Linked DNA regions of Homo sapiens: all the other regions are linked to region 7. The links come from fine-mapping of genetic effects on gene expression. A gene starts in region 7. Each other region holds a variant in brackets. All regions are shown on one strand. Distances are from middle to middle. Region 1 overlaps DPH7 (diphthamide biosynthesis 7). Region 2 overlaps EHMT1 (euchromatic histone lysine methyltransferase 1). Region 3 overlaps EHMT1 (euchromatic histone lysine methyltransferase 1). Region 4 overlaps EHMT1 (euchromatic histone lysine methyltransferase 1). Region 5 overlaps EHMT1 (euchromatic histone lysine methyltransferase 1). Region 6 overlaps DPH7 (diphthamide biosynthesis 7). Region 7 holds the start of ARRDC1 (arrestin domain containing 1).

Evidence for each region.
Region 1: its variant is fine-mapped to the expression of ARRDC1 in whole blood (TOPMed, PIP above 0.99).
Region 2: its variant is fine-mapped to the expression of ARRDC1 in whole blood (TOPMed, PIP above 0.99).
Region 3: its variant is fine-mapped to the expression of ARRDC1 in blood mononuclear cells (TOPMed, PIP above 0.99).
Region 4: its variant is fine-mapped to the expression of ARRDC1 in whole blood (INTERVAL, PIP above 0.99).
Region 5: its variant is fine-mapped to the expression of ARRDC1 in whole blood (TOPMed, PIP above 0.99).
Region 6: its variant is fine-mapped to the expression of ARRDC1 in whole blood (TOPMed, PIP above 0.99).

What each region holds. Positions count from the first base shown.
Region 1 is chr9:137,560,527-137,564,591 of GRCh38, reverse strand. It overlaps DPH7 (diphthamide biosynthesis 7), which reads left to right. Exons shown (of 9, transcript NM_138778.5): 8 at 1-158. Among named protein-coding and RNA genes, the nearest start is that of MRPL41, 11 kb to the right of the region's middle. The variant G/A (reference allele first, on the strand shown) is at 2,507.
Region 2 is chr9:137,645,408-137,649,472 of GRCh38, reverse strand. The region is part of intron 1 of EHMT1 (euchromatic histone lysine methyltransferase 1); the gene reads right to left. Among named protein-coding and RNA genes, the nearest start is that of EHMT1, 28 kb to the right of the region's middle. RefSeq lists an enhancer at 2,100-2,169. The variant G/A (reference allele first, on the strand shown) is at 1,547.
Region 3 is chr9:137,638,684-137,642,748 of GRCh38, reverse strand. All of the region lies in intron 1 of EHMT1 (euchromatic histone lysine methyltransferase 1), which reads right to left. It also overlaps the pseudogene SETP5. Among named protein-coding and RNA genes, the nearest start is that of EHMT1, 22 kb to the right of the region's middle. The variant T/C (reference allele first, on the strand shown) is at 1,812.
Region 4 is chr9:137,737,488-137,741,552 of GRCh38, reverse strand. The region is part of intron 4 of EHMT1 (euchromatic histone lysine methyltransferase 1); the gene reads right to left. Among named protein-coding and RNA genes, the nearest start is that of MIR602, 99 kb to the left of the region's middle. RefSeq lists enhancers at 1-410, 3,214-3,473. The variant G/A (reference allele first, on the strand shown) is at 2,416.
Region 5 is chr9:137,763,664-137,767,728 of GRCh38, reverse strand. The region is part of intron 10 of EHMT1 (euchromatic histone lysine methyltransferase 1); the gene reads right to left. Among named protein-coding and RNA genes, the nearest start is that of MIR602, 73 kb to the left of the region's middle. RefSeq lists an enhancer at 3,354-4,065. The variant A/G (reference allele first, on the strand shown) is at 2,177.
Region 6 is chr9:137,569,144-137,573,208 of GRCh38, reverse strand. All of the region lies in intron 5 of DPH7 (diphthamide biosynthesis 7), which reads left to right. Among named protein-coding and RNA genes, the nearest start is that of DPH7, 7.7 kb to the left of the region's middle. The variant G/A (reference allele first, on the strand shown) is at 2,512.
Region 7 is chr9:137,603,487-137,607,551 of GRCh38, reverse strand. ARRDC1 (arrestin domain containing 1) reads right to left here and starts at 1,866. Exons shown (of 8, transcript NM_152285.4): 1 at 1,717-1,866. The coding sequence starts at 1,834. It overlaps LOC124902318 (a long non-coding RNA gene), which reads left to right and starts at 2,214. Exons shown (of 3, transcript XR_007061885.1): 1 at 2,214-2,255. RefSeq lists silencers at 1,195-1,464, 1,475-2,604.

The DNA.
Region 1 (4,065 bases), 43 kb after region 7:
CCTACTGTGGGACACACGAAACATGAAGCAGCCGTTGGCAGATACGCCTGTGCAGGGTGGGGTATGGAGAATCAAGTGGCACCCTTTCCACCACCACCTGCTCCTGGCCGCCTGCATGCACAGTGGCTTTAAGATCCTCAACTGCCAAAAGGCAATGGGTGAGTGGGGACCCGTGGCTGCTGGGCCTCAGGGCAGGGCACCAGTTCCCTGCCCCCTCGCTCTGCTGGGCTCTTCCCTCAGCTCCCTGCTCCCTTGCTCTGCTGGGCTCTTCCCTCAGCTTTTACACACTCCCAGCGTCGCGCCCTAGACTTGGTCGTGATCCATAACTGTCCCAGCTCCAGAATCTCTGCTCTCTAACCACAGTTTTCCCTGGTTTCCCAGCTCCGTCATTCCGGTGCCTCCTGCATTTCGGCAGACCTCTGACCCCACTGGGACCTCTAGTCTGGAGGCTTGGCCACCCATCACTCCCATAACCATCCTTGTCTGTGCTCTCCCATGCTCTTCCTGCCTGTGGTCAGCTGGGACTCTGTGGTCTGCTGCCCCCTGTGAGCTCACACTCCATTCCCTTCATCCCTTTCTCACACTCTGGGCAGAACCCAGTGTTGTTTTGTTGGGAACAAGCACCTCTGATTCTGGTTGAGCCGGAGAACGTGGCTGGAATCAGCTGTCCACGTTGTGTTCTAGTAGGTCCCTGGGATTCCTGGTGATCTGTAACATTTCTCTAGGCAGTAATCCCCCACTGTCAGAACTGGTTCACATTTTCTTCTCTCTGCTCAAACCTCCAGGACCTCCTCTTCCCTCCTGACTTGCAGCTCATGATCTCTCCTCTTTCGCCTCTTCTCTCTCCCCTCACTCCAAAAATAAGCAATCACAAAACCACCTCATCTTCCCACCATTAAGCCCACCAGCCTCTCGGGCCACCCACATGCTCTCTGCCCTCTGCAGCGGTGGGTGACCCACACCTGTTCCCAAGGCCAGTTTCTTCTCTGCACTGGATTGTACTCAAGGACTTGATTGACTCGATTTCCGCATGGTATTCCTCTTTTTTTTTTTTTTTTTTGAGACGGAGTCTTGCTCTGTCACCCAGGCTGGAGTGCAGTGGTGCGATCTCGGCTCACCACAGCCTTCGCCTCCTGGGTTCTAGCGATTCTCCTGCCTCAGCCTCCCAAGTAGCTGGGATTACAGGCACCCACCACCATGCCTGGCTGATTTTTATAGTTTTAGAAGAGATGGGGGGTTCACCATGTTGGTCAGGCTGGTCTGGAACTCCTGACCTCGTGATCCGCCTGCCTTGGCCTCCCGAAGTGTTAGGATTACAGGCGTGAGCCACCGTGCCTGGCCTGTATTCCTCTGTGTTTTGCATCTTTAGTTTCTCCATCTCTTCTGTATTGTTTCTGTTAGTTCTGTGAATGTGCTTTGTATTTCTCATCGTTTTTTGTTTTGTTTTGAGATGGTGTCTTGCTCTGTCACCCAGGCTGGAGTGTGGTGGTGCAATTGTAGCTCACTGCAGCCTCAACCTCCTGGGGCTCAAACCATCCTCCCATCTCAGCCTCCTGAGTAGCTGGGACCCCCATGCCAAGCCATAATATTTCTTGTATTAAAACAATTTGAGATCTTTTTTTTTTGAGATGGAGTCTTGCTCTGTCACCCAGAATGGTGTACAGTGGTGTGATCTCGTCTCACTGCAACCTCTGCTTCCTGGCTTCAAGCAATTCTCCTGCCTCAGCCTCCAGAGTAGCTGGGATCACAGGCTTGTGCCACCACGCCTGGCTAATTTTTGTATTTTTAGTAGAGACGGGGTTTCACCACGTTGGCCAGGCTGGTCTTGAACTCCTGACCTCAGGTGATCCGCCCACCTTGGCCTCCCAAAGTACAGGCATGAGCCACCGTGCCCAGCCCCTGGGCTCAAACCATCCTTCCACCTCAGCCTCCCGAGTAGCTGGGACCACCATGCCCAGCCATAATATTTCTCATCTTAAAACAATTTGAGGTCTTTTTTCTTTATTAATGGTGATACATTTTCCTCTGAGCACTGCTTTTGCTGCAACCCATACATTTTGGTATGTTGTATTTTTATTTTCATTCATCTCAAGGTACTTTCTAATTTCCCATGTGGTTTTTTTCTTCGACCATTGGTTATTTATGAGTGTGTTGTTTAATGTACATGTTTTTAAGTGCCCACATTTCTTTCTGTTACCGATTTCTAATGTTATTCCATTGTGCATTCCTGTTGAATTTACTGAGATTAGTTTTGTGGCCTAGAGTGTGGTCTCTGCTGGGGAGTGCCCCTGTGCACTTGCGGACGTGTGTTCTGCTGCTGTTGGCTGGAGTGCCCTGTAGGTGCCTGTGAGGTCTCGGCTTTATAATGTTCAGATCTTCTGGTTCCTTACTGAATCTCCTGTCTGGGCAATATTGAAAGTGGTCTGTTGGCTGGGCACGGTGGCTCACGCCTGTAATCCCAGTACTTTGGGAGGCTGAGGTGGGCAGATCACAAGGTCAGGAGATC[G/A]AGACCATCCTGGCTAACATGGTGAAACCCCGTCTCTACTAAAAATACAAAAAATTAGCCAGGCGCTGTGGTGGGTGCCTGCAGTCCCAGCTACTTGGGAGGCTGAGGCAGGAGAATGGCGTGAACCCAGGAGGCGGAGCTTGCAGTGAGCCGAGATCGCGCCACTGCACTCCAGCCTGGGAGACACAGCGAGACTCCATCTCAAAAAAATAAAAGAAAGTGGGCTATTGCTACCTCCAACTCTAACTGTAGAATTATGTATTTCCAGCCTCGTTTCCATCAGTTTTTACTTCACGTATTTTGGGGATCTCTTTTATATATGTTTATAATTCTGGTATCTTCCAGATGTGCTGACCCTTTTATCAATATAAAGTGTCTGTCTTTAAATCTAGTAACATTTTTTGTTTTAAAGTCAGTTTTGTCTGGCATTGGTAAAGTCACTTCAGTGTGGCGTGATGCATCGTTTTCATTCTCTTTCAGTTCACACCTGAGTCTGAGGCGAGTCTTTGGTATGGGGTCATGCTTTTTTTTTTTTTTTTTTTTGAGATGGAGTCTCGCTCTGTCACCCAGGCTGGAATGCAGTGGCGCTATCTTGGCTCACTGCAACCTCCACCTTCCGGGTTCACGCCGCCATTCTCCTGCCTCAGCCTCCCGAGTAGCTGGGAATACAGGCACCTGCCACCACGCCTGGCTAATTTTTGTATTTTTATTGGAGACGAGGTTTCACCATGTTGGCCGGGGTCGTGCATTTTTGCCAGGAAACCTGTGAAAGTGGCGCTGTGCCCTCCTTAGTTCCTCACATCAAGGGCCTATGATGCCACATTGTTCCATTTTTGTGAAATTTGGTCACTTTGTTAAGGTGGTGTTTGCCCCAATCCCTTCACTGAAGAGATACTATTTTCCTCTTTGGGATTAATCAGTAATCTGTGGTGAGAATCTTTGAACCTGTGTCAATAACTCCCTTTTCAGACTTTTACCCAATTCAGAGACAATTGGTGCTTGAATAAATTATGGTAATGGCAAAATGGTGATTTTCTTTTTTTCTTTTTTTTTTTTTTTTTTTTGAGATGGGGTCTTGCTCTGTTGCCCTGGCTGGAGTGCAGTGGCACGATCTCGGCCCACTGCAACCTCCACCTCCCGGGTTCAAGCGATTCTCCTGCCTCAGCCTCCTGAGTAGCTGGGACTACAGGTGCCCACCACCACGCCCGGCAAATTTTTTTTTTTTTTTTTGAGACAGAGTCTCACTGTGTCACCCAGGCTGGAGTGCAGTGGTGGGATCTTGGCTCACTGCAAGCTCCGCCTCCCGGGTTCACGCCATTCTCCTGCCTCAGCCTCCTGAGCAGCTGGGACTACAGGCGCCCACCACCACACCTGGCTAATTTTTTTTGTATTTTTAGTAGAGACGGGGTTTCACCGTGTTAGCCAGGATGGTCTTGATCTCCTGACCTCGTGATCCGCCCGCCTCGGCCTCCCAAAGTGCTGGGATTACAGGCGTGAGCCACCCTGCCTGGCCAATTTTTTGTATTTTTATTAGAGACAGGGTTTCGCCGTGTTAGCCA
Region 2 (4,065 bases), 42 kb before region 7:
TGTTTGTTTGTTTGAGTCGGAGTCTCGCTCTGTTGCCCAGGCTGGAGTGCAATGGCGCGATCTCAGCTCACTGCCACCTCCGCCTCCCAGGTTCAAGCAATTCTCCTGCCTCGGCCTCCGCAGTATCTGGGATTACAGGCACCCGTCACCACATCCGACTAATTTTTATATTTTTAGTAAAGACAGGGTTTCCCCATGTTGACCAGGCTGGTCTCTTTGGCCAGGCTGGTCTCAAACTCCTGACCTCATGATCCACCCGCCTTGGCCTCACAAAGTGCTGGGATTACAGGCATGAGCCACTGCACCCAGCCGGGAGAACACTATTTCTGAAGTCACGGGTGGATCTGAATTTGGGAGAACACTATTTCTGAAGTCACAGGGGAATGTGAATTTGGGAAGACACTACTCAACCCACTGATGCCCAGTTTCCCCAGTGATGAAGCTCAAGCACGATACGACAACCAGGATCAGTCTCTGGCTTTTTGGGTGGCAAATGGATAAGATGGTACAGCTCATAAGCAGAAAAACTAGGAAGACCAGCTAAAGGGTGACTACTATAATCCAAGCAGGGCACTGTGGTGGCTTGGGCCCAACAGTGATGCCATGATAGGGAGAGAAGTCAGGGAAACGGGATGCACCCTGAGGATGAGGCTGATGGGATCTTCTGATGAACCAGCTGAATTTGAGAGGGGAAGGCAGGACTAAGAATGATTCCTTGTTGGCATTTTTACAGACATAAAGGATAAGTTTTTGCATTAACTTGGGAGAACTAACATGTTTATGATGTCCAAGAACAACAAATGTATTTCCAGAGTTCAAGTCTTCTGTTCCAAGTGCTCGAATGCCCTGGCTAGAGTGCAGTGTTGTGATCACAGTTCACTGCAACCTCAACCTCTTGATGACACTCCCGCCTCAGCCTCCCAAGTAGCTGGGACCACAGGCATGAGGCACCATGCCCAACTATTTTTTTTTTTTTTTTTTGGAGAGAAGGAGTCTCTCTATGTTGCCCAGGCTGGTCTGAAACTTCTGGGCCCAAGCAGTCCTCCCACCTCAGCCTCCCAAAGTACTGGGATTACAGGCGTGAACCACCACAACCCAGCTGGCTACTGACTTAATGTATCAATTTTATATCCAGTTCCTTTACTGAATTTCACTGTCTGTGTTTTAACATTGACTCTTTTGGGTTTTCCAGGTATAGTTCATTTCATCTAGGTGTTCAGATTTAATTGCTGAAGATTATACAATATGGTCTCTTACGATTTTGCTGTCCCAAACAGAATATTGCTTGAAGGGCTCTCACTGGCCATATTGGAATAATTTGAGTTTCAAAAGGACAAATGGTGAAAATAGATTTTAACACATTTAATAAGTACAAATTCATTACCTCAGGAGCCATTCTATAGTAATGCCAAAAAAATATGAAAGGGGAAAGAAAGCTCTTCCTTGAGAAAAGTGTCAACAAACAAATGGGGAAGGAAGGGCAGAGTGGTTTCCCAGCATACAGTCAATGCAAAGAGTACGAATGCTCTGAAGAAAAAGAAAGCAG[G/A]AGAGAGCGAGAGCAAGTGTCCACAGATGCGGCCGGGCGCGGTGGCTCACGTCTGTAATCCCAACACCTTGGGAGGCCGAGGCGGGTGGATTGCCTGAGCTCAGGAGTTCGAGACCAGCCTGGGCAACACGGTGAAACCCCGTCTCTACTAAAAATACAAAAAAATTAGCTGGGCATGGTGGCGCACGCGTGTAATGCCAGCTACTCGGAAGGCTGAGACAGGAGAATCACTGGAACCTGGGAGGCGGAGGTTTCAGTAAGCCAAGATTGCACCACTGCACTCCAGCCTGGGTGACAAAGCAAGACTCCATCTCAAAAAAAAAAAAAAAAAAGGCAAGAGCAGAGCCCAGAAGGCACAGGAAGTCTGCGTGCAGAGCAGCAACGCCTGGCAAAGACTGCTGCCCCTGAGCAGAGAGCACAGGGGCCACCAAAAAGCAGGGAGAAGAAGCTGGGACCCCATTACAGCCATGGAGTGCAGAAGCTGTGTCATAAAGGTAGAGCCGACAGCGTCTCCTGGGAAATGCCATTCTACAGATGGTGTCTAGCGCTGCGGGGCGAGAGGCAGACCAAGAGAGCTGCGTTTCATGCTGGGCAGAAGGTGCCTATCAGTTTTCCATGCAGTCAACATGGAGTCAACCTGGAGCCACAGCAAAGAGGTCAGCCTGGGGCACGAGCCTGGGGTCAACAGAGGACTGGATAGCTCAGGGAATAAGGACACACACAACACGAGGACCAGCCTGGGACTTCGGGCACGTCAATATTTAGAAGTCAGGCTTAAGAGGCGGGTCCTCCAAACAGGACTGGGAAGAAGGAGGCGGCAGGAAACCAGAAGAGTGCAGTGTTCTAGAAGCCAAACGGAGACAACTAATCCCAGGTTTTTTTTGCTTGAATTATGATAACAAATGCTGGTGAAAGAACCAGTAAGACGAAGGCTGAGAACTAACCAATGACAATGTCTAGGTCAATGGTGACCATAACCAAAAGGGCATCTGAGGAGTAGTGGAGACCAAAGCCTGCTGCAGCGGGCTCAGCCACGTGGGGACTGGAAACAGCACAGGCAGAAGGAAACCTGAGGGACTGGAATTTAAGGTACAGAAAGGTAAGGAAGAAGCTGAACATGAATAGCCGTGTTTTCAAAGACAGTAGGAGATAATGTTAAAGCTGAAAATCAGTTAAGACATCCAACGTTACAAGATTTGCGGCAGTGAGGGGATCAAACCCAGCCTCCAATTCGGCCAGAGCTCATGACAACACACGTGCCTTGCGAGATGTGAAAACAACAGAACTGCGCCACACCTCCCCCAGGCCACCCCAGCCCACATGCACGTGGGCCTCCCCCAGACCACCCCAGACCACCCCAGCCCACACGCTCGGGGGCCTCCCCCAGGCTCCAGGGTTGGGCAGCCAAGGCTGCTTTCCACCTGCTGACTAGCTCCTCTCTCCCACAAAACGGGAGCACTCCTCGGGGCTCCCATTCAGCCCTCTTACTTTCCAGCCCATTGTCCAGAGAATGAGTCCCTCGTCCTCTCCCCGTGGTCACAGGATTCTTGCCCGCAGCACAAACTTGAAATGTTCCTCAGGCCAGGTACCACTGTCCCACAGAAAGACAGGAAATGCCACAGACATCATTTTAAATTTCTAGCATCTACATTTAAAAAGTAAAAATAGGCCAGGCACAGTGGCTCACACCTATAATCCCAACACTTTGGGAGGCCGAGGCAGGCGGATCACCTGAGGCCAGGAGATCAAGACCAGCCTGGCCAACATGGAGAAATCCCATCCCTATTTAAAATACAAAAAGTTAGCTGGGTGTGGTGGTGGGCACCTGTCATCCCAGCTACGCGGGAGGCTGAGGCAGGAGAACTGCTTGAATCCGGGAGACAGAGGCTGCAGTGAGCTGAGATCACACCATTGCACTCCAGCCTGGGCAACAGAGCAAGACTCTGTCTCAAAAAAAAAAGTAAAAATAGAAGTAACTAATTTTAATAAATTGCCTTTAACTCAGTATAGATCCAAAACATTATCAACATGTAACCAATATAAAATAATTAGTACCAAAAGAGTGTGAACTATCGTACTAAGCCTCTGAAATCTAGTGTGCATTTCACATAGCACATCTCAGTTCGATATGGCCATGTTTCAAGGGTCTGAGGCCCACGTGGGGCTGCAGCCACGTTTCTGGAGATCACAGCCACCTCTCCACTCAGCGCTGCAAGTACAAAAGCCAACCCTTCTCTAAGATTCCATTTGGAATCGAGTGAAAAAGACACTTGTGTATCAGTCTGCAGCAGAGATGGAAACACAGACAGCCTTCCTTTAACCACCTACAGGAGGCCCCTCTTCGCTGCTTCTATCACACCCTGTTTATCTCTTTTAATAGCAATTACCAAAGTGTGTAATTGTTTGTCTTTCTCAAAACTAGGACACAAGGGCTTCTGTAAGTACAAGGCAGACGCCATGTGCATTCTCATGTGGCTCCCAGTGCAGAAGCTGGCACACGAAGGCAGTAAGTACTTGTT
Region 3 (4,065 bases), 35 kb before region 7:
CAGCAACTATAAATCTGCGTAGATGGGCACACAGTGTAATGTAATTTGTATGACAATAACAGTACAAGAAGGGCAAAAGAAATTAAGCTATGCCCAAATAAATATTTCATATAGTATTGTAATATAGTATTAATACAAACTACATTATCAAAAATTAATATACTAAATTGTAATCCCCAGGACAACCAAGAAAACAAATAAAAAATACAGTCAAATAAACAGCAAGGGAATTAAAATGGTATACACTAGAAAATATCTAACACAAAAGAAGAAAGCAATGAGTCAGGCGTTGTGGTACGCCTGCAGTCCCAGCTACTCAGGAGGCTGAGGTGGGAGGATCCTGTGAGCCCGGGAGTTCAAGGCCACGGTGCACTATGATCATGCCTATGAATACTCACTGCGCTCCAGCCTGGGCAACATAGTGAAACTCCATCTCCATGAAGAACAAAAACTAACTGAGGCAGAAAGTAACAAAAAAGACAGAAGACGCAGAAAGCAAATACAAAATCGACAAGTATAAACCCTACCTTTCAGTAATTACATTAGATGAAACGCATTACCTGTCCCACATGAAAAGTAGAGACTGGGGGAATAGATTAAAAAATTTGGGGCCGGGCGCAGTGGCTCACACCTGTAATCCCAGCACTTTGGGAGGCCGAGGCGGGTGGATCACCTGAGGTCAGGAGTTCAGGACCAGCTTGGCCAACTTGACGAAACTCCGTCTCTACTAAAAATACAAAAATTAGCCAGGCATGGTGGTGGGTGCCTGTAGTCCCAGCTACTCAGGAGGCTGAGGCAGGAGAACAGCTTGAACCATGGAGTTGGAGGGCATGGGGGCAGAGGTTGCCATGAGCCAAGGTCATGCCACTGTACTCCAGCCTGGGTGACAGAGCGAGACTCCATGTCAAAAAAAAAAAAAATGTGATCTTAGTCCTATGAGCTTCTTCCTGATGAGCAAGGAGGCCCTTGGGTCCAGACTCTCCTCCCGGAATGACCCCCAAACACCCGTCTCTGCCCCTGCCTGAAAGGAAGACATGGCGCCAGCCCCTGACAGAGGCCAGAGGAAGAGAGGAACAGAACAAGCGGCAACCAAGCCCACGAGGAAGCACAGCACAAAACAGGCTTCAGAAACAGGCTTAGCAAGTGAGCGGCAAGCGGACTGGGAGAGCGAACATAGACAAATTCGGCCAACCACGTTCTTCAGGGCAGATGAGAATTGATTCCCAAAATCCCCAATTTCTGGGTAATAACATTTGTCAGCCATCCACAAGCGTCTGCACTGCTTGGGAGGAGGATGAAGAGGCACTGCATTGTTTGACCAGTGCTGAAGTGACAGAATTTGAAGATATTAAATCAGGTTACAGAATAGGTTTTTATTTTGACGAAAATCCTTACTTCAAAAATAAAGCTCTCTCAAAGAATTTCATCTGAATGAGAGTCATGATCCATCTTCAAAGTCCACGGAAATCAAATGGAAATCTGGAAAGGAAACTCTTCAAGTCAAATGCAGAATAAAGCCAGTAGGAAGAGGCATCCTGAGGAACCAGACAGGTTCTTCACCTGGTTTACTGGCCATTCTGACGCAGGTGCAGATGAGTTAGGAGAGGTCAGCAAAGACCATACTTGGCCAAATTCATCACAGTGCTCCTTGGTTCCCAATATGGATGATAAAGAAGGAGAAGACGAAGATGATGAGGAGGAGGAACTGGAAGACACTGATGAGGAACGGGATAAGGAGAAGATAACTAATAGAACACACATGGATTAGAACCTTCCTTTTTTAAAGCTGTCTCCAGTTCCCGGGAGCAAGG[T/C]GCAGTCTTGCTTTTTCCCTCTTGTGCTCACCCAGTTCTTGAGGTCTCTTTTGTCTACACCGTGGATCTCAACTTATCTGGGGGGGAAATACCTTGAGGAGAATAAAATGTGAAAAGAATCTCTACCTCTTTCTGTTTCAAACTCATTTTTATCCCTTCCTATCTCAACAAACTTGTATGGAATCAACATCACCATGTTCTATGGAAAAAAGAACAACTTTCTGCCCCCTTTGCACTGTTGGAAGCTAAAGGGCGCCAGGCCCCTATAATGCAGAGAATTCTAGCATTTTTTCCTTCTCTGCATATTGGGCTCAGAGAAAACATGTATCTACTTGCTCTTGATTAAAAAAAGAAAATTTCAGACCAGGCACAGGGGTGCACACCTGTAATCCTAGCACTTTGGGAGACCAAGATGGGAGGATCACTTGAGGCCAGGAGTTCAAAACCAGCCTGAGCAACATAGGAAGACCCCATCTTTACAAAAAATTTAAAAATTAGCTGGACATAGTGGCAGATGCCAGTGGTCCCAGCTGATCAGGAAGCCAAGGTGGGAGGACTGCTTGAGCCCAGGGTCAAGGCTGCAGTGAGCTATGATCACGCCACTGCACTCCAGCCAGGGTAACAGCAAGACCAGGTCTCTAAAACACACAAAAATAAAACAAAACAAAAATTAAAATTAAAAGCTTTAAAAAATAAGGTTACAGGCCAGGCACGGTGGCTCACACCCGTAATCCCAGCACTTTGGGAGGCCGAGGCAGGCGGATCACCTGAGTTCAGGAGTTCAAGAACAGCCTGGCCAACACAGCGAAACCCCATCTCTACTAAAAATATAAAACTTAGCCGGGCACAGTGGCACATGCCTGTAATCCTAGCTACTCGGGAGGCAGAGGCAGGACAATCACTCGAACCCGGGAGGCAGAGGTTACGGTGAGCCAAGATCGCGCCATTGCACTCCAGCCTGGGCAACAAGAGCGAGACTCCGTCTCTAAATAAATAAGGTTACAGAAGGCCAGCAAAGGGTGGGTCTCAAATGTCTGGTGGGTTGAGTGGGCATTCTGATATCACAGCTCCTCCTCTGGCTGATTAATGGGGAGGTACAACAGACATCCTTGCAGTCTAAGGTGACACTTTAAAAATAAAATCTCTTCTATCAGGTAAGAAAAATACATATATATGATTCAACTGCTGAATCTACAAGATCCGATCTCAGATGGAAAGGACTGTAAGAGACATCCCTTCGATTGAAGATACAAAGAGATTAAAAGGCCAGAAAAAGATATAGTATGCAAAAATAAACCATAAAAAAACTGAAGTGGCTATACTGACATCAGACAAAATAGACTTTAAAACAAAAACATTTATAGAGACAAAGAGGGACATTTCATAATGAGAGAAGTGTCAAAACACCCAGGCAGATGTAACAACTATAAACACACGCAAGATAACATAGTCTCAAAACACGAGGCAAAAACCAACAGAACTGAAAGTGAAAATGTAAAATTCGACAGTACTGTAGATCTCATACTCTACTCTCAATAACTAATAGAACTAGAAAGAAAATGAGAAAGAATAAGGAAGACTTAATACTATCAACCAATTCAATCTGACATATAGGGAACATTCCACCTAATAAATTCATAATGCACATTATTTTCAAGCACTGATGAAACATTCCCCAGGACAGAATATAATACGGGATTTTTTTTTTAATCTAACAAATTAAACACACTGAAACTATACAAAGTATAATTCTGACCATACAGGAATTACATTAGAAATCAACAAAACAAAGAAATCCAGGAAATACCTAAATATTTAGAAATTAAATGACACACTTCTAAAGTCACAAGGGAAAATAGAAAATATTCTGAACTGAATAAAAATGAAAATACAACATATCAACATTTATAGGAAGCAGCCTGTTTTTTCCTAGGACACATGTAACAATAGAAATGTATGGTCTCGAAGTTCTGAAGGCTGGAAGTCCACAATGAAGGTGTCAGTAGGCCTTGTGGTCTGTAATGGCTTTGGAGTGCCATCCCCTGCCTCGGCCAGGCTCTGGGGTCTGCTGGCCGTCCCTGACACTCCTTGGCTTATGGAAGCATCACCCCAGTCATGCGCCACTTCTCCCTGTGTGTCCGCATGCTGTCTTCCTTCTGTGCATGTCTGTGTTCACAAGGCATCCTTTTTTTTTTATGAGGACACGTAAGTCATACTGGATTAGAGGCCTACCCTACTCAACTATGATTTCATC
Region 4 (4,065 bases), 130 kb before region 7:
TAAATCGGACATGGCACCTGTTTATAAATAAAGCTTTATTGGTGCACACCCATGCCCACTGTCTACATACTGTCTGCATCTGCTTCAATGTGACAACAGCATGACCAGCTGGGACAGGAACAGTGTGGCCCACAAAGGCGCTGACGTTTGCTACCTGTCCCCTGGAAACAGTTTGCTACCTGTCCCCTGGAAACAGTTTGCTGACTCCTGTAATGAATGGCTGAGTGAGGACAAAGGAGATAACCCTGCATTTCATGTGCTTAAGAATCATGTCGGCCGGGCGCAGTGGCTCACACCTATTGTAATCCCAGCACTTTGCGAGGCCGAGGCGGGTGGATCACGAGGTCAGGAGATCGAGACCATCCTGGCTAACACAGTGAAACCCCGTCTCTACTAAAAATATAAAAAATTAGCCGGCCAAGGTGGCGGGCGCCTGTAGTCCCAGCTACTCGGGAGGCTGAGGCAGGAGAATGGCGTGAACCCGGGAGGCGGAGCTTGCAGTGAGCCAGGATCGCACCACTGCACTCCAGCCTGGGCAACACAGCGAGACTCTGTCTCAAACAAACAAAAAAAAAATCATGTCGGGGCCCAGTGCAGTGGCTCACATCTGTAATCCCAGCTACTGAGGAGTCTGAGGCAGGTGAATCACTTGAACCCGGGAGGCAGAGCTTGCAGTGAGCCGAGATCGCACCACTGCACTCCAGCCTGGGAAACAGAGCTAGACTCCATCTCAAAAAATAATAATAAAATAAAATAAAATAAATCATGTCAGGAAGTCTGTCTGCTGCAAACAAGTGAAGAATGGTGTCTAAGGGCCTCTTACTGAGTGACAGGTTGTATGTGTGAAACAGATGTTAGGTATAAAATTTGCTACACATTAAATAGTAGAGAAACATCTATGGATGACTTTCAGAAATGTAGAATCTATTAAGGACCTGAAAGTGTTTGAGCACGTGGCTGAAGTGTGAAGAGGAGCCGCTTCAGTCCTGCAGGGGGACTTCCAGCTGTGTCCAGGGAAGGGGTCTGGCCCTGAGCCAGACGGCTGGGATTCAGCGTCATCAGGGGCCAGGAGAAAGAAAACTGCAGGACGGCTGGCAGTAAGCTTCGAAGAGGCTCGAGGGCCTCTTTGGAAGGAGGATTTGCAGTCCAGGCCTCAAAGAAGCGGGGCCAGTGCCCTGCAGATGGGATCTGGCACAGGAGAATCCTGGTGGAGAACATCAAGAAGGGGGGCGAGGGGGGGGCTTCAGGACCCCGAGCAAAGACTCTCGCCAACTGGCATCTCACAGGACGCTCGGGGAGGCCCAGGCATAGGACAGTGTGGAACAGACAGTTCCAGGAAAAATAGTGCCAGGAGTGGAAATGGGCGTGGGGTGGGGGTGGGCACTGCCCAGCTGCTCTGCAGGAAGGCTGGGCTGCTGGGTAGAAGAGGTGTGGACAAGGAAGAAAGGCGACAGGCTCCAGAGGGCAGACAAGGTGGATGGGAGGTTGGAAGTGAGGGAAAAAAGCAAGTGCACGGGAAACACAGCAGTCTGCGTGGTCACCACCACAACTCTGCCACTCACAAGGGCTTCTGTCCTCAGGTCACATAGAGCAGGGCCCAGCTCTATGTCCAGGCCTCATGCCTGGACAGCAGCACCTGTAGAACTGTTCCCTGCCATCAGAGACACCGTCCTCCTTCCTCCCTGCCCGACAAGTCCACACAGAGACCCCAGGCCATTCAGGATCAGTATTTGGCACTGTTCCCACCCACCTATGCAGAAGGCACGAACACTCCAAGCTCACAAAGCAAAAGGCAGGGCCTCCACTCTGGGCATGTCCTGTGGTCACCAGCAAAAAAGCGCAAGGGAAGCACTGCAACTTCTGCAGCAACCTGCAGCTTCTACCCAAGTGTGGACAATGAACCCAGTAGGGACCTGCAGCTTCTACCCAAGTGTGGACAATGAACCCAGCAGGGACCTGCAGCTTCTACCCAAGTGTGGAAAATGAACCCAGCAGGGACCTGCAGCTTCTACCCAAGTGTGAACATTGAACCCAGCAGGGACCTGCAGCTTCTACTCAAGTGTGGACACTGTACCAAGCAGGGACCTGCAGCTTCTACCCAAGTGTGGACACTGAACCCAGCAGCAACCTACAAGTGTGGACACTCAAACTGCTTTATGACCTAAGTTTACTTTTTCTTTCTTTTTTTTTTTTTTTTGAGACTGAGTCTGGCTCTGTTGCCCAGGCTGGAGTGCATTGGTGCGATCTCCGCTCACTGCAAGCTCCGCCTCCTGGGTTCACGCCATTCTCCTGCCTCAGCCTCCTGAGTACCTGGGCCACCACGCCCGGCTAATTTTTCTATTTTTAGTAGAGACGAGGTTTCACCGTGTTAGCCAGGATGGTCTCGATCTCCTGACCTTGTGATCTGCCTGCTTC[G/A]GCCTCCCAAAGTGCTGGGATTACAGGCATGAGCCACCGCGCCCGGCCTGTTTTTTTTTTTTTTACTAGTAAAATACACACACCACAAAATTTACCATCTTCATCATCTTTAAGTGCACGGTTCCATGGTATTAAATACATTCAGAATGTTGTGCAACTATCACCCCTATCTACCTCCACAACTCTTTCCATCTTGTCAAACTGAAGCTCTGTTCCCATTAAGCCCTAACTCTCCATTCCCTTCCTCCAGCCCCAGACTCCAGCCCCTTCTACTCTTTCTGTGTCCATCAGTTGGACGACTCTAGGGACCTCCTTTAAGTGGAATGGTACAACATTTGTTCTTTTGTGGCTGACTTACTTCATTCGGCACAGTGTCCCCGAGGCTCATCCACGCTGCAGCGCGGGCCCCAGCTTCGCTGCTTCTCAGGCTGAGTCACACGTCACTGCGTTTTGCACACGACACTTTGCTGATCCGTTCGCCCGACAGCCGACCCTCGGGTGGCTTCCCCCTTTTGGCTGCTGTGGTTGATGCTGCTATCAACGTGGGTGTACAAGCATCTCTTCAAGACCCTGCTTTCAGTGCTGCTGGGGCACGTGCCCAGCAGTGGAACTGCTGGATCACATGGTAGTTCCACACTTAGTTTTTTGAGTTTTTCACAGCAGATGCACCGTTTCACTTCCTACCAGCAGTGCACAAGGGTTCCCATTTCTCCGCATCCTCACTGATATGTGCCATTTTCTGTTTTGATAGTTGCTGTCCTCAACAGGTGTACGGTGGTATCTCACTGTGGTTTTGATTTGCATTTACCTTATGATTAGTGACGTTGAGCATCTTTTCATGGGCTTACTGGCCATTTGTGCATCTTCTTTGAATAAACGTCTATTCCAGTCCTTTGCCTTTTTTGGGTTTTTTTTGTTGTTTTTTTTTTGTTGTTGTTTTTTTTGAGACAGAGTCTCACTCTGTCACCCAGGCTGGAGTGCAGTGGTCCGATCTCGGCTCACTGCAACCTCTACCACTCGGGTTCAAGTGATTCTCCTGCCTCAGCCTCCCAAGTACCTGGGACCACAGGCATGCACCACTATGCCCAGCTAACTTTTGTATTTGTAGTAGAGATGGGGTTTCACTATGTTGGCTCGGCTCGTCTGGAACTCCTGACCTCAGGTGATCTGCCTGCCTCGGCCTCCCAAAGTGCTGAGATTACAGGCGCAAGCCACTGCACCCGGCCTCCTTTGCTGATTTTTTAATCAAGTTGTTTTTATTGTTGAGTTGTGGGATTTTTTTTGTATATTTTGGGTAGTAATTCCTCATCAGACATAGGATTTGCAGATATTTTCTCCTACTCCACAGGTGCCTTTTTATTCCGTTAACAGTGTCTTTTCTTTACGACTAGCCAAGTGCAGCAGTAAGAAGCAGGGAAACAGGGAAACAAGGAGATAGAAAGCTTTGTGCATCAAAAGACACCAAGTCTCATCAAACCCAGTGTGTCTCCTTTTTTTTTGTTACCTACACTTTTGGTGTCATGTCCAAGAAATCACTGCCAAATCCAAGGTTGTGGAGCCTTTGTCCTATGTTTTCTTCTCAGAATTTTATATGTTTAGGTCTTACATTTAGGTCCTGGACCTGTCTTAGGCTAACTTCTGCATATGGTG
Region 5 (4,065 bases), 160 kb before region 7:
AGATTCTCCTGTCTCAGCCTCCCAAGTAGCTCGGATTACAAGCTCCCGCCACCACGCCCATCTAATTTTTGTATTTTTGGTAGAGACTGGATTTCCCCATGTTGGCCGGGCTGGTTTTGAACTCCTGACCTCAAGCAATCCACCCACCTCAGCCTCCCAAAGTGCTGGGATTATAGGCGTGAGCCACCTCACCCTGCTCTCAGATTTTTGAATTTGGGATGCACAACTGGTAAGTATAATGCAAATATTCCAAAATCCAAAATGAAATCCAAAACACTTCTGGTCCCAAGCATTTTGAGTAAGTGATACTCAACCTGTATTGTAACCTTATCAGACCACCTTCATAGATACGGTACATCAACCTGTATTACAACCTTCACAGCTACAGTCCATCGTTGGCTGAACGCTGTTACGCAGCACGTGACTATGTTAGATAAAAGGGCAAAACCACCAGGCATGGTGGCAGCTCCAATCCCAGCTACTCAAGAGGCTGAGGCAGGAGGGTTGCTTGAGTGCAGGAGTTTGAATCTGCACCGAGCTCTGCCTGCACCGCTGCACTCCAGCCTGGGCAGCAGAGTGGCACATTATCTCTAAAAAATAAAAGTAGGCTGGGCACGGTGGCTCACACTTACAATCCCAGCATTGTGGGAGGCCAAGGCAGGTGGATAGCTTGAGCCCAGAAGTTCGAGACCAGCCTGGGGAACATAGTGAGATACCATCTCTACAAAATAAAAATATTAAAACTTAGCTGGGCGTGGTGTTGCATGCCTGTAGTCCCAGCCACTCGGGAGGCTCAGCTGGGAGAATCACCTGAGCCCCAAAGGTGGAGGCTGCAATGAGAGCCACTGCATTCCAGCCTGGGGGTCCAAGTGAGAACCTGTCTCGAAAAATAAAATAAAGCAAAATTTTTCTTTATTAAAAGAGCAAATCCAACTACATGCTGTCTACAAGAAAGCCACTTTAAATTTAAAGACAGAGACAGACTAAAAGCAAAAGTGTAGAAAATGACGTACGGTGCAAACATTAATCAAAAGAAAGCTGAGTAGCTATGTTAATATCAGACAACACAGCCTTTAAAACAAAACAGGTAGTTTTTGTTTTTGTTTTTGTTTTTGTGACGGAGTCTCACTCTGTCGCCCAGGCTGAAGAACAGCAGCACGACTGATGCTCACTGCAACCGTCGCCTCCCAGGCTCAAGCAATTCTCCTGCCTCAGCCTCCCAAGTAGCTGGGACTACAGGCAGGCGCCACCACAAGTGGCTACTTTTTGTATTTTCAGTAGAGATGGTGTTTCCCCATGTTGGCCACGATGGTCTCAAACTCCTGAGCTCAAGTGACCTGCCTGCTTCGGCCTCCCCAAGTGCTGGGATTACAGGCATAAGCCACTGTGCCTGGCCTGAGATATGTCTCTCTATAAAACCATTCCAGTGAACAATGAATAATAAATGATAAAATCAGCACCATTTTGAAACCTCCAATGAATAAACAACAAATGTAGGTGTTAAGCATCAGCAGCTGCCAATATCAGAGAAAGTGAGACAGCCAGACAACATGGCCCTTCATTTTGGGCTAAACCCTCCCCACACTCAAGAGTACTACAAAGGGGCCAAACTTGTAAGGCTGTTTAAGTTTTTTTAAGAGATGGGGTTTCATCATGTTGCCCAGGCTGGTCTTGAACTCCTGGGCTCAAGCAATCCTTCTGCCTCGACCTCCCATTTTACAGACATGAGCTACTGCACCCGGCCTTGGCAGGTTTTGCAAGAAACACAGAGGAACCTGCTGAGTTGCCACCTAAGTGTGGGATTCACAGAATCCAGACTATGGGAGCCTCGAAGCTTCCAACAGCCTGGGTTGTTCAACAGACACATTGAAAGAAAAAGAAGGGACCGAGAACAATATAGAAATTGAAGGACAGATGGGCAGCAGTGCCACAGGGGAAGCTACAAACCTAAACAGTGAAACTGACCCTGGAAGTGGGCGTTGTGGGAGTCGGGACAGAGGCTGCTGGGCGGGGCTGCCGGGAAGAACACAAGCGGGGACAGGCTGGGGCGGCGGGGGCGGGGGGAGTGGGGCAGTGAGGGGAGTGGGGCTGGGGGGTCAGGCTCCGCTTCTCCACCTTGGCGGTGTTTACCAGAGCTCAGCTGAAGTTGGTTTGTTCAGCCCAATGTTTGTTTTGT[A/G]TGGTCTTCGGGATCTACGTTTCATTTAATTTAATTTATTATTATTTTGAGTTTTCTATCCAAAAAATAAGTGAGAGCCCAAGGGATCTGTGTTTAATTTTAAACAAAAAAAGCTTACCACACATTGAATACAGAGAAGACCATGAGTTCTTAAGAATGCTAAGGGAGAAAGGGAGGTGGAGAGGGGACAGAGAGAAGCAAAATCAAGCCCTCCGGATACCACTAGAGGTTGTTAGAGCACCCATTCATTACTCTGCAAAGACAAGTAGCTATTTATTCTGCCAATCCCGGCTGAAGCTTGTTTCAGAGGTACGAAACAGCCCTAGCAGATGTGGGGAAGTTCTTCTGTACCAAAGAATTCCAGCCTGTACTTGCAGGAGGAATGACAGAATGGCAAAATCACCATTTTGAAACTTTGAATGAAACAATGGATGCAGGCAGTGGTCACCAAGGACAATACCGCCTTCGGGCGGACAGGCGGCCGCCGCAGAAACCCAGAGCCTTCTCAGCACCGCTCCCAGCGCACGAACCTCCACAGCATTCTCGCCAGAATTAAATCATAAAATAAAAATCTTAGGTACTTGAATGTAAACCAAGTCTTTGAATCTAACTTTCAGGCTATAGGAACTAAGGCAAATGACTTAAACAACACAAGAAAGTTATGAGCTAAGTCCAGAATCTGGAATCCAGATTCTTTTAGCCAACAGCGTGGCAAATGGGAAGAAGCAGGGGACAGAGAGAATGTTCTGGGTGAAAGAAACACAAAAGACTTAAGAGACATTGCAGCAGATTGATTTAATGAGTGGAACCAGTTTGGATCCAATTAGAAAGAGAGAAAAAAAGTAAAAGGCATTTTGTCAACAGACCTTTGACCATGGACTAGGCACTAAATAATAACAGGAAATTGTTATTTTTGTTACATGTGAAAAGCATTGCTGTTATGTGAGACAATGGTCCATTTTTGATCTTAATAGAAACACACTGTGCTATTCAGTAGTAAAATGGGGTTTGTTTTAAAACAGTAAGTAGTTCAAAACCAAGAAAGAAGGGTGGGAGAGAACGCTGGTGACAGAGGAGCCGAGTCGAGGGTTCCAAAGGCTAACTGCGCCCTCACTTGTCACTATGGAAAGTTCTTTTGAAACAAGTGAGAGGCTCTGCAGAGGGGCCGAGTGTGGCAGAACATGCAGCGAGTGACATGAACACTCAGAGGTGGGAAAAGCCGTCACATAGGGAGCCCGCTGGGCACACGTGCCACAGATGAGAGGCGCTGACGCAGACGTCGCCTAGCTGGGATGAGACAAAAGCAACGCCAGTGTCGGAGTCTGAGTAAAGGCATGTGCACCGGAAACGTGGAGATACAGAGAGAAAAGTCACAGGGAAGCACGTGTCACACGGGGATCTGACTCCACTGGATCCTGTTTAACACCTACGGAGAAGGAGAAGAGGAGGCGAACCAGTGGTTCTCAAAGTGTGGTCCCTGGACCAGAAGCATCAGGAGAAACGGGGAACACTTTAGAAAAGCAAAATCCCAGCCAGGCCAGACCTGCTGAATCAGAAACCCCGGCCACGCCAACAGGCACCAGGGTGAGGGCCATGGGCGAAACTGACTGGCCTGTTCCAGGGCTCTGCCCGCTCCTCCCGGGTGTTGCCCATGCTCCCCGACACAGCGGTCGGGCCTGACCTTTGGAACAAGGCTCCCATTCCTGCCTTCCTCACAGCAGGCCAGTGAGTCTGGAGGCGCCACCTGGCCCCTCTCACGGGCCTCACCTGTATCACCTGGGCGACGGCCGATGCTGCACAGGCTGCCGTGGACCTGGAGGAGCGCCCTACGCAAAAGGCTTGGAATAATGCCCAGCATTGCTACACGGATGGTTGTCCTGTTCACAGCT
Region 6 (4,065 bases), 34 kb after region 7:
TTTGTATTTTTAGTAGAGACGGGGTTTCACTGTGTTAGCCAGGGTGGTCTTGATCTCCTGACCTCGTGATCCACTCGCCTCGGCCTCCCAAAGTGCTGGGATTACAGGCGTGAGCCACCTTGCCCCGCCCACTTATTCTTTAGAGAGCAAAGTATAGCTTGCCTCAGGCAGTGCAGGGTCTTGGGTGGTGTTGGCCAGGGTGTTGGAGGAGCAGGCACCTGTGGGCAGAGCCATCCTGCCTCCCTGATATGCTCGGTGTCAGATCCTTTATGCTTTTACTGGAAGTCCAGTTTCTGTGCTTTTTGCCTGATACCTGTGGATACAATAGTGACTTCGCCATGTTGGATTTCAAGTTTGTCTGCACCCTTTTTGGATATAGTTTATCTTCCAGAAATAAAGGAAGCATGAGAGAAATAAGATTCCTTTCCAGGTCTTGTGAATGGTTTGCATTTGGGGCATGCTGATGTGGGAGTGAGAAATTAACAACTGGTGTTTCCAGGAAGGAGGTAGCTTTGGCTAGCATCTCTTTCCCAGGTAGAGATAACTCATGGCAGGTGAGAGGGGCGGGTCTCTGAGAAAAGACAGAAGAGGAGCTGCTGAATTTGCAAACAGCCGAAGAAAAGATCTGACCCTTCCCTGCTGCTACCCATCCGGGCCACTGTCTCATCTAGTTTGTTACAGCAGAGCAGCAAGTGATGGCCCTGCCTTCATTCCTGACTGTTCCAGTCTCCACACAGTAGCCAAGCAAGTGTTTTAAAAACACACACACTTTATCGCATCTCACTCATTGTTAGAACCCCTCACAGTTCCTGTTTCATTGAGGATAAAATCCAAAATAGTGATGCGATTACCCAAGGCCTGTGGAATCTGGTCCACGCCTGCTTCTCCGGCCTTGTTTTGGCTCCTATGCTCTCAGTCACCTTTTCCTGAAATAGTCCACATTCCCTCAGTCTCAGGGTTTCGTCACGGGATGTTTCCTTCATGGGTGAATTCTGCTTTTTTGACATGCCCAGCTTAAAATCTTGTCCTTAGAAGACTGACGCAGAGCAGCTGTCCTTCCACCCCAGGCAGGCCTCACCTCCGCCGTGGCTCACGCTGCCTCTGCTTGTCCGAGTGACGAGCACGTGTGTAAGGCGGCGTTCTTATTTGTGTTGCTCATTGTCACAGCCTTGAACCGTCTGAGAGCCATAAAGATCTCATTTCTTGAGGTCTCTCCTTGGGTTGGTTCTTCTACCTTGAGCTAATTCAGAGCAAAGGTACCGTAGGGCAATGATTGAATAATTCTGGACTGATTCATTCTTTCAACAAATGCTATGTGCTGAGCCCTATTCTAGGTGATTAGAATACTTTAGCAAACTAAACAGACAAAAGTCCTGCTTTCTTTTTTAAGTTTTATTATTTTTATTTATTTATTTATTTTGAGATGGAGTTTCGCTCTTATTGCCCAGGCTGGAGGGCAGTGGTACAATCTTGGCTCATTGCAACCTCCACCTCCTGGGTTCAAGTGATTCTCCTGCCTCAGCCTCCTGAGTAATTGGGATTATAGGCACCTGCCGCCATGCCCGGCTAATTTTTGTATTTTTAGTAGAGATGCGGTTTTACCATGTTGCCCAGGCTGGTCTCGAATGCCTAGGCTCAAGCGATCTACCTGCCTCAGCCTCCCAGTGTTGGGATTATAGGCGTCAGCCACTGCACTCAGCCTTCTTAAAAAAATTATTTATATAGGCCAGGCGCGGTGGCTCACACCTGTAATCCCAGCACTTTAGGAGGCCAAGATGGGCGGATCATGAGGTCAGCAGATCAAGACCATCCTGGCCAACATGGTGAAACCCCATCTCTATTAAAATACAAAAAATTAGCCGGGCATGGTGGCAGGCGCCTGTAGTCCCAACTACTCGGGAGGCTGAGACAGTGGAATTGCTTGAACCCGGGAGGCAGAGGTTGCAGTGAGCCGAGATCGCACCACTGCACTCCAGCCTGGCGAGAGAGCAAGGCTCTGTCTCAAAAAAAAAAAATTTATTTATATAAATACATTTTGAGGATGGGGTGGGTGGTTCACGTCTTGCTGTGTCACCCAAGCTGGAGTGCAATGGCGTGACCACAGGTCACGGCAGCCTTAACCTCCCAGGGTCAAGCGATCCTCCTGCCTCAGCCTTCTGAGTAGCTGGGACTACAGGTGTGAGTTACCACACCTGGCTGATTTTCACATAAAAGTCCCTGCTTTCACCCAGCTTACATTCTGTGGCGGGGAGACAGACAGTAAACACAAGGCATAATATGTAATAGGGAAGGAGACTGCATGGCCTGTCAGGGGCAATGAGTGCTTTGGAAAGAAGGTAGAAGGAGGTGAGAGGGGACCAAGGGTGCTGGGAGCAGGTGCAGATTATACTGTTGGAGAGCATGGTCAGGGTGGGCAGTGGTCCTAAGGCAGGAGTGGCCCTGCTATGGCAGAAGAGTAGCCAGTAGCCAGCATGGTTAGGATGACCTGAGGCAGTAGCGGAATAGAAGAGG[G/A]TGAAATCAGAGGTAATGGGCCAGGGCACAGGGCCGTGCAGGCTCCAGGAAGGACTTTGTTTCCTACTCAGAATGAAATGGGAGCTGTTGCAGGATGTTGAGCAGAGGAATGACAGATTCTGACTTGCATTTTAAAATTTGCGATGACCTCTTTGGTGAATGTGAGTCTAGACCACAAGAGGGAGGGACACAGCCTGGAGACTTGACATTGGGCAGGTGATGAGACAGCCCAGAGCAGGTTTGGAGTAGTGGAGGTGAGGACCAGTGGTTGGGTTCTGGATAGAAGTGAAGGTATATCCAGTCAGATTTCCTGATGGAGTGGATATGTGGGGCATGCGAGAGTGGAGAGACTCACGTATAAAGAAGCCTTTGCCTACTCTGTACAAATTTGCCACAGAATGGCAGCTCATACTTGAGGCTCATCTGCAGGCTTCATGCCTAGGTCAGCTGATTCCGCTGGTTCATTTAACTGTAGGTCATGTTCACTGTGTATCCGTAGTGTCTATTATGAGGGTCCATAGTGTGTGTTCAGCAAGTACCTATTTGATGGGTGGTGGGTGGGTGGGTGGATGGTGGGTAGGAGGGCGTGTGGGTGGATGGATGGATGGATGGTGGGTGGATGAGTGAGTGGGTGGGTTTGTGGTGGATGGATGGTGGATTTTTGGATGGTGGGTGGTGGTGGGGTGGATAGATGGTGGGTGACTGGATGGATGGATGGTGGATGACTGGATGGATGGATTTTTGGATGGTGGGTGGTAGAGTTTGGATAGATAGTGGGTGAGTGGATGGATGGTGGGTGGGAGGGCGTGTGGATGGATGGATGGATGGATGGTGGGTGGATGAGTTGGTGGGTGTGTGGTGGATGGATGGTGGATTTTTGGATGGTGGTGGTGGTGGCGTGGATAGATGGTGAGTGACTGGATAGATGGATGGTGGATTGTTGGATGGATGGATGGATGGATGGATGGATGGATGGATCATGGGTGGATGGATGGATTTTTGGATGGTGGGTGGTGGGTGGTGGGTCGTGGGTGGTGGATGGTGGATGGATGGTGGATTGTTGGATGGATGGATGGTGGGTGAGTGGCTGGCTGGCTGGCTTGATAGACGGGGGGTGGATGGATGGATTTTTGGGTGGTGGGTGGTGGGTGGATGGATGGTAGATTGTTGGATGGAAGGTGGGAGGGCGGGTGGGTCGATGGATGGTGGATTGTTGGATGGATGGATGGATGGATGGTGGGTGAGTGACTGGCTGGCTGGATGGATGGATGGTGGGTGGATGGATGGATTTTTGGATGGTGGGTGGTGGGTGGTGGGTGGTGGATGGATGGTGGATTGTTGGATGGATAGTGGGTAGATGGATGGAAGGTGGGTGGGGGGTGGGTGGGGGCATGGGTGGATGGATGGTGGAATTTTGGATAGGGTGAGGTCGGGGGGTGGATAGATGGTGAGATGGATGGAAGGTGGGTGGGTAGTGGGAGCTGGATGATGCAGGGGTGGGTGATGTGGTTAGGCCTAGACGTTTTCCTTCTGATCTTCTTCACTCTCCCTGTG
Region 7 (4,065 bases):
AACAGCAGAACAAGAAGTGGTCCTGCCTGAACCCCAGCCCTGGACTGGGCCAGCCTGAGCTCCAGAAAACTGCTCCCTCCCAGGCCTCCCTCCGCGTCAGCCCTTTAGACAGCCGGTGTCCTCACGGCTGGGTGCTGACTGTCACCGACACTCATCGGCAGAGTAAGTGAGCAAGCTCTGGGGCCCAGGCAGGGCTGCTGTCCTCCTGGGGGCTGAGGGCCTCCCTACTGGCTCCTAGCAGGATTGACAAGCATCCTCTGAATGAGGAAAAGAAACCATGGTCCTTCTGTTCCCATCCCAGGCAGGGCTGGGGGAAACCCCCGGGGGCCCCGGTACACCCTCCCACCTCACTTGCAGCAGCCTGAATCATGTGCTCTCTGGCCCATCAGGGCCCATCTCCTACTCCTTAGCTCACGACCCTCCTTTTTCTCCCTCATTCAGACCAGCCTCTGTGAGGTAGGACCATCAGCCAGTGCTCCCTCGGCTCTTGGGCCAGCTGCCCAAAGTGCTGGGATTACAGGCGTGAGCATTCAACCCACCCACCACGTCCACCCGGAGGCCAGGGGAGCCTGCACACCCAGGCCAGTCACGCACCGCGGGGCCGTCCCTTCCCTGTGGTAAGCAATGGCCTGCTCACCCCAGGCCACGCCAGGGGAAGGACGACAGGGTCCTGCACAGCCCTCAACCAGGATCCAGCCGGCCTCACCACACACCACACCTGTACCCAAGAGATGTGTGTGCTATCTCTGCCCTGCCACGGCCACACCTGCCCCCACCCAGACCCCAAACTCAAGGTTGGGACAGAGGAAGGGAGGCTGTGGGGTCATCCCAGGAGGCCCAGTGGGGCCAGGAGCCTGACAGAAGCACCTACCACCCGGCTTCTTCCGAGGCCCCACAGCCTCAGGCGGTGCAGGGTCAGGGCCACAGCACCATCACCTGTCCCAGGAGGCTGAGAGGACAGAACAGAGACTGTGGGTTCTCAGCAGGCACAAAATCGGTGCTGTTACCCACGCGCGGGCCCAGCGGTCAAGGTCCAGCGGCAAGTCCAGGGGCTGTGGCACAGGCCAAGCAGCCCAGGTGGTTCCCACAGGAGGCCAAGGTAGAGAAGTCCCCGGCAGGGACGCGGCACTCACAGCCAAGGGCCGGGCAGAGGCAGCCTCACCTCGCGGGCCGGCCCTCACCTCCAGGGCGCCCTGCCAGCGGCCACTGCAGCAACCCGATACCCAGTCCCCGAGGCCCAGGCGTCCACCTCGGCGGGGGGCCGGCGAGGCCTGCTGGCGGGTGGCAGGGGGCGCAGGGAGCCGCAGCAGGTGTCTGCACCCCGCCGGGACCGCACGCCCGCGCCAGGAGCGGCTCTGCAGCGGGAGCGCCTGCGCCGGGAGCCAGGGTGCGGGAAGGAGCCCAGCAGGTGCGAGCGCGGACGGGGAGGGTCGCAGGCCTGCGTGCGCCCGCGCTCAGGGCGTCCTCCACAGTGGACCCGCTTCAGGCCCCGCCGGGACCCCGCCGCCCCTCGGCGAGAGGGCAGGAAGGGCAGACGCGGAAGGGCGGCGCCGCCCGGACCTCCCCGGCGCCGCCGAGCCCGCTTCCCAGCAGTCCCGGGCGGCGAAGACAGCGACTCCGCGGGCCCAACCCGGGGCCAGGCGACGGCAGCCGCTTCCGGGAGCCCTGGCCCCGCGCAGGTGCGGCCAAAGGCCCTCCCCGAGGACCCGCGCCCACCTCGGAACGGCAGCGGTGCCCCCAGGCGCACGCGCACGGTCCCAGCCAACGGCTCCCCGGGGCTGTAGACGACGCGGCCGTGGCTCAGGCTGATCTCGAAGAGCTGCACTCGCCCCATGCCGCGGCCTCACCGGCCAGCCGCGCAGCGACGCCCCCGCCCGCCGCCCGCGAGTCCCGGCTCCGAGGCCCGGCCCCGCCCCCTCCTATGCCCCGCCCCCATCCGTCCCAATCCCGGCCTCCACCCCCATCCGGCCCCTCCCAGGCCCTGCCCCGCCCCACGGCCCCGCCCAGCCCCCCGGCCGCCCCGTAGCCCGCGGACTGCCGCTCGGAGGCCCGGCCCAGCCCCTATTCCCCGCCCCATCCGTCCGTGTGGCCCCGCCCCCTCGTTATTCCCCGCCCCTCTGACAGCCTCCTCGCCCCGCCCCCGCCCTTCGCCCCTGCCTCGCCTTCCCAGCTCCGCCCCTGCCTCGGCCGCCCCACCCCTGCCCCGCCCCCCGGCCGCGCTCATCCATCCCCGGCCCTGGCCCTGTCCCGGCTGGGTAGGTGCTGCGCTGCGTCGGGCGCCGCTTAAGGGACTTGAGGCGCAAGCGTCCCGTGCGTCCCCCACGGAGGGAGTCACCGCCGCGTCTCCGTCGGGGGGCAGGGCTGGGGGCGGGGCCGAGGCGAGCTCTGAGACTGGGAAGGTCTCCCCGCTGCACTCTGCTGCGGGCAGAACCCACTCCTCCGCCCCCACCCTCCGCCCGTCCCGCCCAGGGGTCTCCCTCACCCCGAGTCGCGGAAAAACGTCACGGGGCCGCGCGGGCGTCCTGGGCGGGGATGCTCCGCCGCGTAGGACCTGCCCCGCCTCAACCCCCACCCCCGGCTCCTGCCCCGCACCCCCAACCTTCTCCGCACCTACCTCGCGTCCCAGCACCTGTCGCGCCCCTCCGGAACCTGCCCGCCCTCCCGCCTTCCCGGTACCTGCCTACCCCCGCAACTGTCCCGGCCCCCAACACCTGCATCGCCCAACCCCTTCCCCCCCCGCCCCCTGCCTTCCCCGCACCTGCCCGGAGTCCCAGCACCTGCCCCGCCCCCCGCTATCCCCCTCCTTGCTGGCCTGATGGGGTGTGGGCCCAAGGGAGCCACACTTGGGCGGAGGCCCTTGGGCAGGGGTCCGCAGCAGAAGGGTCGGGGGCCAGGTGGGGCGAGGACTTGGATCACTTGAAACCAGGAGGAACACACTCCCATTTATCTTTTTTAAAGGGTCCCTTTGTAGAGAGTGAGCCGCGGGGGGTGGGACTCAAATACCCAGGGGACCTAAGGCGGGAGAGACCGGTTGGGTAGTCCTGGAGAGGGAAGGCGTCGCTCGACAAGGACCAGCTCACCACGGAGTGGGTGTGCGGGCCCCAGTGCTGCGAGTTTTTCTAGGACAGCCGGTGAAGAGGGTGGCCTTCTCTGATGGGGAGGACGGACCTAGATACACATGGTTTGGGGGTGGGAGGGTCATCACATGCAGAGTCTGAGGTGCCACTGATCCCCAATGGACCAAGTACTTCCGTGCATGAGCCTGGGAGTCAAGCACTAAAATGTTGCCATCCCTAGTTGGTAGAAGGTAACAGGTCAGGGAGGAGGAGTCTGGCACCCCAGCAAAGAGAAAGGGGCTCACAGGCTGGAGGGGCCCCCGGGCCAGGCTGGGAGAGGCCCTGAAGCCCCAGGCCCAGCTCACTCCCTTAGGATTCCGATGTTTCCGGAGGTGGGTCTAACTGGCCATGCTCCAGACACTTTCCTGCCAAGGCTATGCACAGGCAGAATTCCCGAACAAGAGAGAAGGGTGCCATGGGATGGCAAGGATTGTGGACAGCCCTCCCGAATGGCAGTCGGCCATGCCAGAAGTCAGAAAGAAGGTGTTTCACCGGGCGCGGTGGCTCGCACCTCTAATCCCAGCACTTTGGGAGGCCGAGGTGGACGGATCACGAGGTCAGGAGATCGAGTCCATCCTGGCTAACATGGTGAAACCCCGTCTCTACTAAAAATACAAAAAGAAAAAAAAAAATTAGCCGGGCGTGGTGACAGGCGCCGTGGTCCCAGCTACTTGGGAGGCTGAGGCAGGAGAATGGCGTGAATCCAGGAGGCGGAGCTTGCAGTGAGCCAAGATCACGCCACTGCACTCCAGCCTGGGCAACAGAGTGAGACTCCATTTCAAAAAAAAAAAACAGAAAAAGAAAAAAAAGAAAGTGTTTCAAGCAAGGGACAGACAGACTGTATTGCAAGCTACTGAGATGGAAGACAATGGACACAGAACACAGGTGGCCTTTATCCCAGGTCAGCCACAATCTAAGCCCCACAGGACTCTGCACATCCTTGATTCTG